Regions from separate parts of the Homo sapiens genome. Here region 1 is linked to region 2. Evidence: fine-mapped expression QTL. Tissue or cell type: prefrontal cortex. Region 2 holds a variant in brackets; the other region holds the start of a gene. All regions are shown on one strand. Distances are from middle to middle.

The links. PIP is the estimated chance that this variant, and not a neighbour inherited with it, causes the effect. A credible set is the group of variants that fine-mapping cannot tell apart.
Region 1: it holds the start of ACSM4, and the variant in region 2 is the best candidate, but not a certain one, in a credible set for the expression of ACSM4 in prefrontal cortex (BrainSeq, PIP 0.66).

What each region holds. Positions count from the first base shown.
Region 1 is chr12:7,301,361-7,306,747 of GRCh38, forward strand. It overlaps ACSM4 (acyl-CoA synthetase medium chain family member 4), which reads left to right and starts at 2,712. Exons shown (of 13, transcript NM_001080454.2): 1 at 2,712-3,172; 2 at 5,173-5,383. The coding sequence starts at 2,972.
Region 2 is chr12:7,352,801-7,358,187 of GRCh38, forward strand. CD163L1 (CD163 molecule like 1) reads right to left here. Exons shown (of 20, transcript NM_174941.6): 19 at 4,580-4,686; 20 at 2,160-2,330. The coding sequence ends at 4,604. Among named protein-coding and RNA genes, the nearest start is that of ACSM4, 51 kb to the left of the region's middle. The variant T/C (reference allele first, on the strand shown) is at 2,261.

The DNA of each region.
Region 1 (5,387 bases), 51 kb before region 2:
TGAGACCAAGAAAGGACAAGATAATGGAAGTGAAAGCTAAACTGCTTCAGACTGATGGAGGCTCAGGTCAGCCCCAAGAGCTTGGAGCACAGTGACAGGACATTATAAGAGGCAGAAACAAGATAACTTAGCAGCTCCAATCCAATAGCTTTTCTTTGCTGTTGTTGTTTGAGACGGAGTCTCACTCTGTCACCCCGGCTGGGGTGCACTGGTGCAATCTTGTTTCACTGCAACCTCTGCCTCCCACGTTCAAGCGAAGTCTCCTGCCTCAGCTTTCTGAGTAGCTGGGATTACAGGAACGCAGCACCACGCCCAGCTAATTTTTGTACTTTTAGTAGAAATGGGGTTTCACCATGTTGGCCAGGCTGGTCTCGAACTCCTGACCTCAAGTGATCTGGCCACCTCGGCCTCCCAAAATGCTGGGATTATAGGTGTGAGCCACTACATCTGGCCTTCCAAACCAACAGCTTTTCTAGGTTTCTTTATATATCAAGAGCTGAAGTCTTCTGTCACAAATGCTTCTGAGGTTTTATTTTTAATATGCAGCATTTATTCATTCCTAGCCACAAACCATGCACTGTGCTAACGTACTCACTAAAACCTTGCAACTACCTAGTGAAGAAGGTATTATTACTCTCATTGCACAGATGCAAATGAGACTTGGAGATGTTAAGCAACTTGACAAAGGTCATCCAGAGAAGCAAGTTTGGATGCAAGTGTGGTGCAAGTGGTATGTGTGTGTGTGTGCATGTGTGTGTGCACGTCTGTGTTTTAGGAGAGGGATGAGAGTCTCACTTTTGGCAGAATGCTAAACCATGAATGTGGTCCACTCTGCTTCTCTTTTCTCCCTTTTCTTTACTCTTGATAATTGCCCAGTTAAGGCGCTATCCCTCTTCTTTTTTTACCTTGGCATAACAGAGAGTTTAACACCAACGGTATTGCCAGCAATAGCTATTTTTGAAATACAGCAAATTGTGTTTGCACCAAATGGACCTGCCACTTATCCAGAAGTCACTCTGAGCAGCACAGAGGACTTGGCAACAACAATGAAGGATGGCACACCCTGCACCCTCCTTTCTATTGTTTGTTATCACCATGCTGCAGACTCAGGTACTCTTTACATTTGCAGATTCTTCCACTCCATTCAAAACAACTACACAAGCCTGAAGGGCAAAAAGGGTGAAGGCATTCACCATCAACAAGAAACCTTTATCGAAGAAGGCAGCACAAGGGAGAATAAATAGCAGAGAAGCTGAGTAGGTTAAGTTCTGAAGTCAGACCAGAGAGGTTCAAACCTTGCCTCTGGTTGCGTCATTGAGCTCATGGTGGCAGAGGCAAGACATGGTTTGTCTCGAGCTGAATGACCTTGGATAAGATCCTTAAGTGTACTTAAACCTCAGTGTCTTCATCTGTAAGATAGAGATAATAATAGCACCAACCTCACAAGCTTGTCATGAATATTGAATGACATCAGAAATGCAAAGTGCCTGCCTACATCAAGAACCTAAAAACTGCCTTTTATTATTGCAGATCTTCTGTGAGTCATGCTTAGTGCTAAGAACACATTACATAGCCTCAACCCATACCGGCTGGGTAGGGAGACAGGGCACATATATGAAAAACTATCATTGATAATACAAAGTAGACAACTGTCACATGAATAGCATAAATGCATGTTACGGAAAACCCAGGGAAGAAATAAACACAAAATTATTTAAAAAATTAATTAGATTACAGATGGTAGTCCAGAAAGAGCAGGCAATTTTACCAATATTAAAAGCAGTTTTTGAAAAAGAAATAAAATCCAAGTCTTCTGGTTCATATGGTAGGATTTTTTAAAATAAAACTATGCCACAATAATATTAAGGAAAATAATCTTAACAACAGCAGTGGTTGCCTGGGTGCAGTGGCTCATACCTACAATCCCAGCACTTTGGGAGGCCAAGGCAGGAAGATTACTTGAGGCTAGGAGTTGGAGGCAAGCCAGCCTGGGTGACATAGTGAGGCCATATCTCTACAAAAAAAAAAAAAAAAAAATTAGCAAGGCATGGTGGTGTGGCCCCTGTAGTCCTAGATGCTCAGGATGCTTAGTCAGGGGGATTGCTTAAGCCTAGGAGTTTGAGGCTTCAGTAAGCTGTGATTGCGCCAACCTGGGTGAAAGAGCAAGACCTTGTTTCTTAATAAACAACAAACAAACAGAAAAACAAAAAAACAACAGTAGTAATTAACACTTTGAAGTCACCTTTTACGAGCTAGGCATTTTATACACATTATCTTATTAAATCCTCACAATAACTGTAGGAGGGAGGTACTATATTTTCCCCTATTTTACAGATGAGAAAATTGAGGTGCAGGAAGATAAGTAACTTGTCCAAAGTCCTACAGCCGGAAAGTGGCTGAACCAGGACTTAAACCCAGGTTTCCAAGCAATCACAATGGGAAGTTGAAGGGGAGAGGAGAACAGGGTAAGCAGGAGCCAGGGAAATGACAGGCCAACTCTTAGTGGGGCATTCATGGCAAGTTAACGGGCCTCCTTTACTGGAAGAGGAAATTCAAGTAGAGGAGTTAGCAGACACAGAACAGTGTATAAAGCAGGCGAAAGGAGGCTCTGAATGCCAGTCCAGACAGCGAAGTTTCTATTTGTCTGTTGTTTGGTTGGGGAGAAGACAGGAACAGAAGACAGGAGTCTGACAATTCTGTAGTTAAGGGGTTTTTTTAGACTCATCTGGTCACAGACAGAATGAAGAGGAAGGGTCCAGTGGCAGGGAGACCAGTCAGTGGCTAAGGCAGCAGCTCTGAGGAAGGATGAGGTGTTTTTCAGGTGTTCCCCAACTTGCCAGGGACACACAGCCACAAATCCACCTCCCAGTCTCACCACAGAGCATCAAGAAACTGATACTCTCTATCCATCTCTCCCTACAGGCTGTAGTACTTCTGTGTCCATAGCAGTAGACAAAGTCCTTTGGGAACCATGAAGATTTTTTTCCGCTACCAGACATTTAGATTCATCTGGCTCACCAAGCCACCTGGCCGGCGCTTACACAAAGATCACCAGCTTTGGACGCCTCTGACTCTTGCTGACTTTGAAGCCATAAATCGCTGTAACAGGCCATTGCCTAAAAACTTTAACTTTGCTGCAGATGTGCTGGACCAGTGGTCCCAAAAGGAGAAGGTATATGACGATGGGCTTCCAGTAGATGCTTGGTGTCCCCTTATCTCTCAGTCTTCCATTTCCTTGTTCTGTGGTCTACCACTTAATTCCAATGCACTCTCTCACCCTCTTGGTTTCCTTTGTTTGTTTTCCAATTGCCCTCCCCTCTCCCCAGGGAAGATCTTAGATCCTCAGCCACAAATGGCTGGGCGGCTCTGGAGCCTTCTCTATCTCCCATCCCCATGGTCGTTCCTCACAGAGTTCTGCCTCTTTTCCTTCTCTTTTCTCCAAGCCCCATGCAACAGTGCTTTGTTTTCAAGTTGGTCACAGGCTTATCGAAAAAGTAGCAAATTGAGTTTTGATTTTATGAATACAGTTATCATTGGAGTAATGAGGAGAGAATTGGAGGTTGACAAGAATAAAGCAAGCGGCCCTTATGCAATGTTTACAGTGCAGCCTCAGGATGAGGTCTCTGTGTACTGATCCTCACCCCATGCCAGGCACTGAGCTAAACACTTAACCAAGCAGTGCTTATCAAAATGCACTGCAGGACCATGGATGGGAACATGATGTTAGGTACTAGACAGACAAGGTATTAAATAACATTGAATCAATTCTTCCTGTTAAATACAGGGGGAAAGCCTTCCTTGAAAGCCATTGTGTCTTTAGCACCTATCATTTGCTAAACACTCTCTTGAATAAAGACCACAGGTAGAAGCTAATCATCTCTAGATAAAATTTAATGGCATAGTTTTGTTTTCAGCATATTTATTTTTCAATAACCTATTTTTTGGCAAGTGGTAATAATTGTCCAATAATGGTGCTGATTAAATATATATTCCTTCTTAAGTAAATGTATACACGTAAAAAGTAAAAAGTGAGTCCATGTAGCGAAGTATACAAAATAAAGAAGAATAGTGCAGGTGCAGGCAGAGCTGACAGAAACAATGAGACTTAAATGACTAAAGATTGAGAAATACTGACCTATATTATTTCACCAAATCCCCATAACAACCTGGGAGGTTTGCAGATGAGGAACTTGACCTCATAGAAGCTAAGCTACTTATCCAAGGCCACACAGGTCCAACAGAACATAAACCCAGTCCCTGATCTTTACAGAGGTTACATCCACAGGGAAGAGACACATCTGTCATATAATAAATTGGAGTCATCTGGAGTATGAGCACAACGATGAAGGAACACAGAGAAGTTAGTGGAGAAACAAAGAGAAGTCTAAGAAAAGCTCACAGACGAACTGACATGTCAACAGGGCTTTAAAGTATTTGCCAGCCAGAGAAGATAAAAGAAGCATTCCAGATAGGGGAAAGAAGGGAGAGTAATTTTTTTCCAGGTAATACATAAGGCAAAGAGGTTTTGCAGTACAGATGACTCACTTTATAGAATGATGGGGAAGAAGTTACCTCTAGAAGTCAATAAATTGATGCCTCCCTCGACCCTGCTCCTTGTGACTTGTGAAAACCACACCTCAGCCTTAGGGTACAAAGAGATGTCTGCTTCCCAGTCAAACTTAGCAGATCCATTCAGGTTATTTGGATGGGAAAGAATCTAATTTAAGCAAGAAAGAAATTTATTCAAGGAATATGGGAGAGCTCACAAAATTGGGCTGGAAGCTGGAGAGTCCATCTCAATGAGGACAGGAATCAGGACAGCTCTCTGAGCATGCGTAAGCACGAATAACCCATAGACAAGTTTTGTACCAACCATTTTCTATCTTTTGATTTCTCTCAGAAAACCAAAAAGTCCAGAGAGAGAAGGTCTGATTGGCCCAACTTTGGTCAAATGCCCACCTACTGCTCGGGGAAGGGTAAAAGCAACCTGAGGGATTCTCTTTTCAAGGCTGTGTTCAATAGGAGAGGGGCAGTTCCCTCAAAGACGAACTCAGGGCGCTGTTAGCAGAATGCACCAGAACCAGTGCCAAAGGGGGAAAACAGCAGATGCCGCATGTAAGAGTAATCAGTCATGTAAACCTACCCCTCTCTTTTCCATGTGTCCCTGGTCAGACAGGGGAGAGACCAGCTAACCCAGCCCTGTGGTGGGTGAATGGCAAAGGGGATGAGGTAAAATGGAGCTTCAGAGAACTGGGCTCCTTGTCCCGAAAAGCTGCCAACGTGCTCACCAAGCCCTGTGGCCTGCAGAGAGGAGACCGTTTGGCCGTGATTCTGCCCAGAATCCCTGAGTGGTGGCTGGTCAATGTAGCTTGCATACGAACAGGTCA
Region 2 (5,387 bases):
AGATCAAAAAACAAACAGCAACAACAACTGCCCTGGGGAAGAGAGATTAGAAACCAGAATTACTGCAGTATATTATCTAAAATGTACAGCTCTAAACAAACAAAAAAGAGATAAGAAAGAAACAGGGAAGTGATCTATACATACCAAAAAAAACCAAAAGCAATCAATGAAATCTAGCTCTGAGGAGGTCCAGGTACTGGACTGAATAGAGAAAGACTTCAAAGCAGCTATTTAAATAAGTTTGAAAAACTAAAGAAAATCATATTTAAAGAATTAAAGAAAAATCTAACGACAATGGCTTAACAAAGAAGAAGAAATAAAATCTGTAAAAAGAAATCAATAGGAATTCTTGAGTCGTAACATGAAATAAATGAAATGATAAGTTTATAAAAAGGCTAAATAGTAACTTTAAAATTCCAGAAGAGAAAAAAATCGGTAAATTTGTAGTTTAATATAAATGATCCGTCTTAAGAACTTGGAAAAAAATACTGCAGAAAAAGTAACAGAGCTTGTATATCAGCATGAGGCACAGAAGAATAGAGAAAGAGGTAGAAAAATATTTGAAAAAAATAACAGTTGAAAATGTCTCAGATTTGCATATTAATTTGAAAATCCAAATAATCCAATGAAACTTAAGGAAGACAAACACAAAGAAATCCTTATCTAGATACCATCAAGCTGTTGAAAGACAGGGACAAGGAGAAAATCTTGGAAGCAGTAAGAGAAAAATGATTCATCACGTACAAGAAAACAACAATATGATTAATGTTGCATTTAATGGAAGTTTAAAAAATAATGTAATAAGAATGAATAATCTTTATTTTATGTAGGTGAATAATTTCATGCATGTATACACAAGAGAGAGGACAGACAAAAGAGTGACAGAAACATTCCAAAATGTTAACAGTGCTTATTTCAGAATGATAGACTTTTTCATATTTATTATTGTTCTTTCAATATTTTTTAACATGTATTTATGTTATAATAAAAACTTAAACTTTCTAAACATAGAAATAGGGATGGCTCTTTATTTTAGTGTAGGTATCTGTAATAATTTTACTGCAGTACAGCAATATTAATGAAATATATATTAATTGGCTAGGATTAAATTTTAATCGTTAAACTCTCTACTACATTTCCTCATAATATATACTGCAAACATATTGCAAAGAGAGGCCCCAATATTTGAAGTACAATCTAAAATCTTGCTAACTCTTGAGAAGAAGCCTTCAAAACAAGCTTTTCTTGGCATGGGACTAATTATCCTTTCTTACCAGATTTGTGAACTAAAGTCTCCTGATTTTTAGGATTTCCAACTCTTTGAGAGCAGAGACCCTAAATGAATAAAGCTTATTTAGGGTCTTAAAGATTTAAAAATGTCTTTTCTAATCACCTAGGCTTCTTTTTTTTGTTTGTTTTACATCTCTTGTAACAGCTCCATGAAGCCTACTGATTTTTAAAAAAATTATTTTACTATTGTGGTAGATACTTGTTACTATATGTGTTATAATTCCTATAGGAACAACAATATGTTCAAAATCTGAGGAAGCCAAGTTAGAAGCAAGGGCAATTGAGCAAAGCTGTCATGAATAAATCTATCAGGGATAAAAATGAAGACAACTATTCTGACATTCAATTTTGAAAATGCTTTCTACATTCAAATATCTATGGAATTACACTAATTTGAACTACAAGAACAGCCATAAGTCAGCCTCAAATAATGTTTTTCATTGTTCAGCAGAAGTAGGAGTAGGATACGTATGGAGTGGTTTTTCAGTTAGTGATTGTCTGAGTTTGGGCTGCTGTAAGAGAATACTATAAACTGGGTGGCATATAAACAACAGAATTTTTTTCCCTCACAGTTTGGGAAGTTATAAACCTGAGATCAGGGTGCCAGCATGATTCAGATCTGATGAGGGCTCCCTGCCAAGTTGTAGACTGCTGACTTCCCACTGTACACTCACATAAGGGAAGGACAGTGACAGAGCCTCTGAGGTTCCATTATTACGGGCACTAATCCCATTCATGAGGGCTTCACCCTCACGACATGATTACCTCCCCAAAACTCCACTTCCTAATACCATTACATTGGCAGTTAGGATTTCAACATACAAATTTTTTTTTGCGAGGGGCAAAGGAAAACACAAACATTCAGTCCATTTAACAGTGATATACATAATTCAATTTTTATTATCACCAGTCTTTATCAATTTAGCTGTTCTCCTATTGTTCAAGAAATGTTATTTGGACAAGTTTTCCA[T/C]AGGGCAACTTGACTTCCTCTTTATTCATTTAAAAGTTGTTGTCTCCTTCAAAGATATTTAGAGGTTGATCTGAAATTATAAAACAAGAGGCAACAAGTTACTATTCTTCTAAATAAGAATGCTAGCCTACATGAGGTTAAAGTTAAGACACGTGTGTGTGTGCACACACAAACACACACACAACCCACAAAGAATTGATCAATTAGGACAGATTTAGTAGGTGCTATGTATTAATATTTCTTTTTTGTGCATATGCAGATATTATGCAATTTTCTTTCTGCTCCCATAGTCTAGAATTCTGAGTCTCAGAATGTAATAATTTACTTATCAAAGAAAAAGAGTGTTAAATAACACCAAAATTAAAAAGGAAGGTATGATTACATATGGTTTTGGTTTTTGGAACACCTCTGGAAATTAATCTTTCAAAAGTTTTTAGTATGGATTCTGCTAAGTCAGAATTGATGATTAATGAGGTTTAGACAGAACAAAAGTAGGTTTTTTTGTATCATAGAATAATAGACTTGCTCAGTGTTATGAGCTGAATTGGGTCCCCCCAAATTCATATGTTCAAGTCTTAACCCCTAGTTCCTCAGGATGTGATTGTATTTGAAGATTGGACCTTCAAAGAGGTAATTAAGGTAAAATGAGGTCACATGGGTGAGCCCTAATCCAGTATGACTGGTGTCCTTACAAGAAGAAATTAGATCACAGACAACACAGACCAAGGGATGACCATCTGAGGGCATAACAAGAAGATGACTGCCTGCAAGGGAAGGAAGGAGGCCTCAGAAGAAATCAAACCTCCCAATATCTTGATCATGGACTTCTGGCATCCAGAATTGTGAGAAAACAAATTTCCATTGTTTAAGCTGCCCAGTCTGTGGTATTTTCTTTTGGCAGCCCTAGAAAACTAATACACTAAGCACAATAATAACTGCTGAGGGAAAATCTTTTCTAATATAGAACCCTAATTTCAAGTACTTTAAAAACAACACATAGTATTCATTGGCAAACAAAAATTGTGCTAATATAAATTAGTATTTATTAAAATTGGTTTAGAATAATACAGACTCAATCATTTGTTCCTTATATCATGCAGATGAAAACACATAAGATACACTTTAGGATACATTTTAATTTAAGTTTTTCAATGAACTTTTCCAAATAGAGAAATTATCAATAGCATATAAAGAGGAAAAAGGCTTCAATCATAAATATAAGTCTTGGTATTAGAAGAGTTACCATTAAATTATGTTGGAGCTAGTTATTATCTAAATGGTTTTTGTGTACTTTGCCTCTGGTTTTTCTAACTTTTTTTGTTATTATGGTAATAATATATTTTTGAGAAAAAACGGAGAAACTCAAGCCCATTCACTTGGATCACTGGGTCAAATTTGAAATAGTTTTGTGTTGGTGATGTCTAGATATTCCATAATAAAAATCAGGAGATATGACTTATCTTTGCTCCCTGGCATTTATTCCCATAAAAAATTTAGAATTATCTTTGGGCTACGCAGAAATGCTGTTTTCAGAATTGCTAGCTCATTCATGCTAGGAATTAAAAAGTGTTTTCAACATTATTTAGAAAGCACAGTGCTTTCTAGTCCTTTGACTTCATTGAGTTCAATTTTTCTCTCCATCATATTTGGACCATCCACTCTAACTGAGAGAAAGCACTGTTCCTTTTGTGCTGGATTTTCTAGTTGACTTTGATTTTAGTTATTTGTCCTGGCACCAGTAAGTGTTTTAGAACTGCCTCAATGCAACATTATTATATAACGAGTGCTTGTTTTTCTAAACCTTTAGAGAATGATTTCACTGCTATTACGTTAATGTTTTCTCATCAGACAAAGCCACCTACGTTTAATAAATATAAAGCATGTATCATCTGTCAGGCACTGGCGATTAAAGCAATAAGGAGTGATATTAATGCACGGAATCTAGTCTGTACTTAAGAGAATAAATGTGAACATCCTACTCTGTGTAACAAAAATGAACAGAAATCCTAGGAATGGAGGTTATCAATGAGCAGTATGTGAAGCTGAGATGTAATCAACCTCTTCCTTAGTGACAGACTATCTGCAGCATCAGCCAATGCTCAAAACCAATTCTGATAAACTCTGTAAATTTTCTATAGGAACAACTTTCTCATCAACCTCTCTCTTTTCCAGAGGTTAACATAGAATATTTGAAATACTGGGGATATGAACCAGTGACATAATATATGGTAATATAAATATTGGAAAAAATGTATTTAATTCTGCGACAGTGGGAGATTAAATTACTAGTTTTAGTAGGAACAATACTTCTCAACTTACCTGGTGAGCCCTGGAAGTCTAAAGTCATTTTGTGGCTTCAGAGGCAGGAAGAACTCCCAACAGCGATGTGTCGCTAGCATCTTCACAACCATGGTTGGGGGTGTCATCTGAAAGAAAGGCAAAATCTGTATTATTGAATAGTAGAAAACCTCTCTGCAGAGGGAAGAGCTGTTAAGTGCAGTGTTTGATCAGCTGGGAAAGTATAATAGAGCAAGAGGTGACTATTACATAAATTAAGAGCACGCTTAGTTATCGTTTTGAAGTAAAATAATTATCATATTTAAAAGGATAAACCATTAAGTGTTACCAAAACAAATAATACAACTTTTTATCAGATTATCAGATTTGCTTCCAGTATCTTAAAAGCCTAGAATTGTGATATTTATATTTTGATTTTAAAAATGGGACAAGTAAAACTCAATGGTAAGCATCATTGTCTAAAGATAGGAGAGTACTAAAAATTATATTTAGGGAATTGTTCCATTTTTGGCAGGATTGAGAGAAATAAAGAATTGTTGTCTGTGGATAGAGAAATGTAGATAACTAAATTTCAAGAAGGTTGAATATGACTGCATCTTTTAAGAGTAATTATTTGAACTTCTAGTTTCCCATGAAGCCTGTAAGAAGCTTGGGAGTCATTACTCCCAATCGCATAACAAGAAAAAAGGTGAATAAACTGAAAATCAACAACTCTTCTTAGGTCCATCAAAGAACTGATGTCATAGGGCAAACCACTACCACCAAAATTGGAGAGACAGACAGGCAGAGACAGAGAATTGCAACTTATAGAGCAGAAACCACTGTGGAA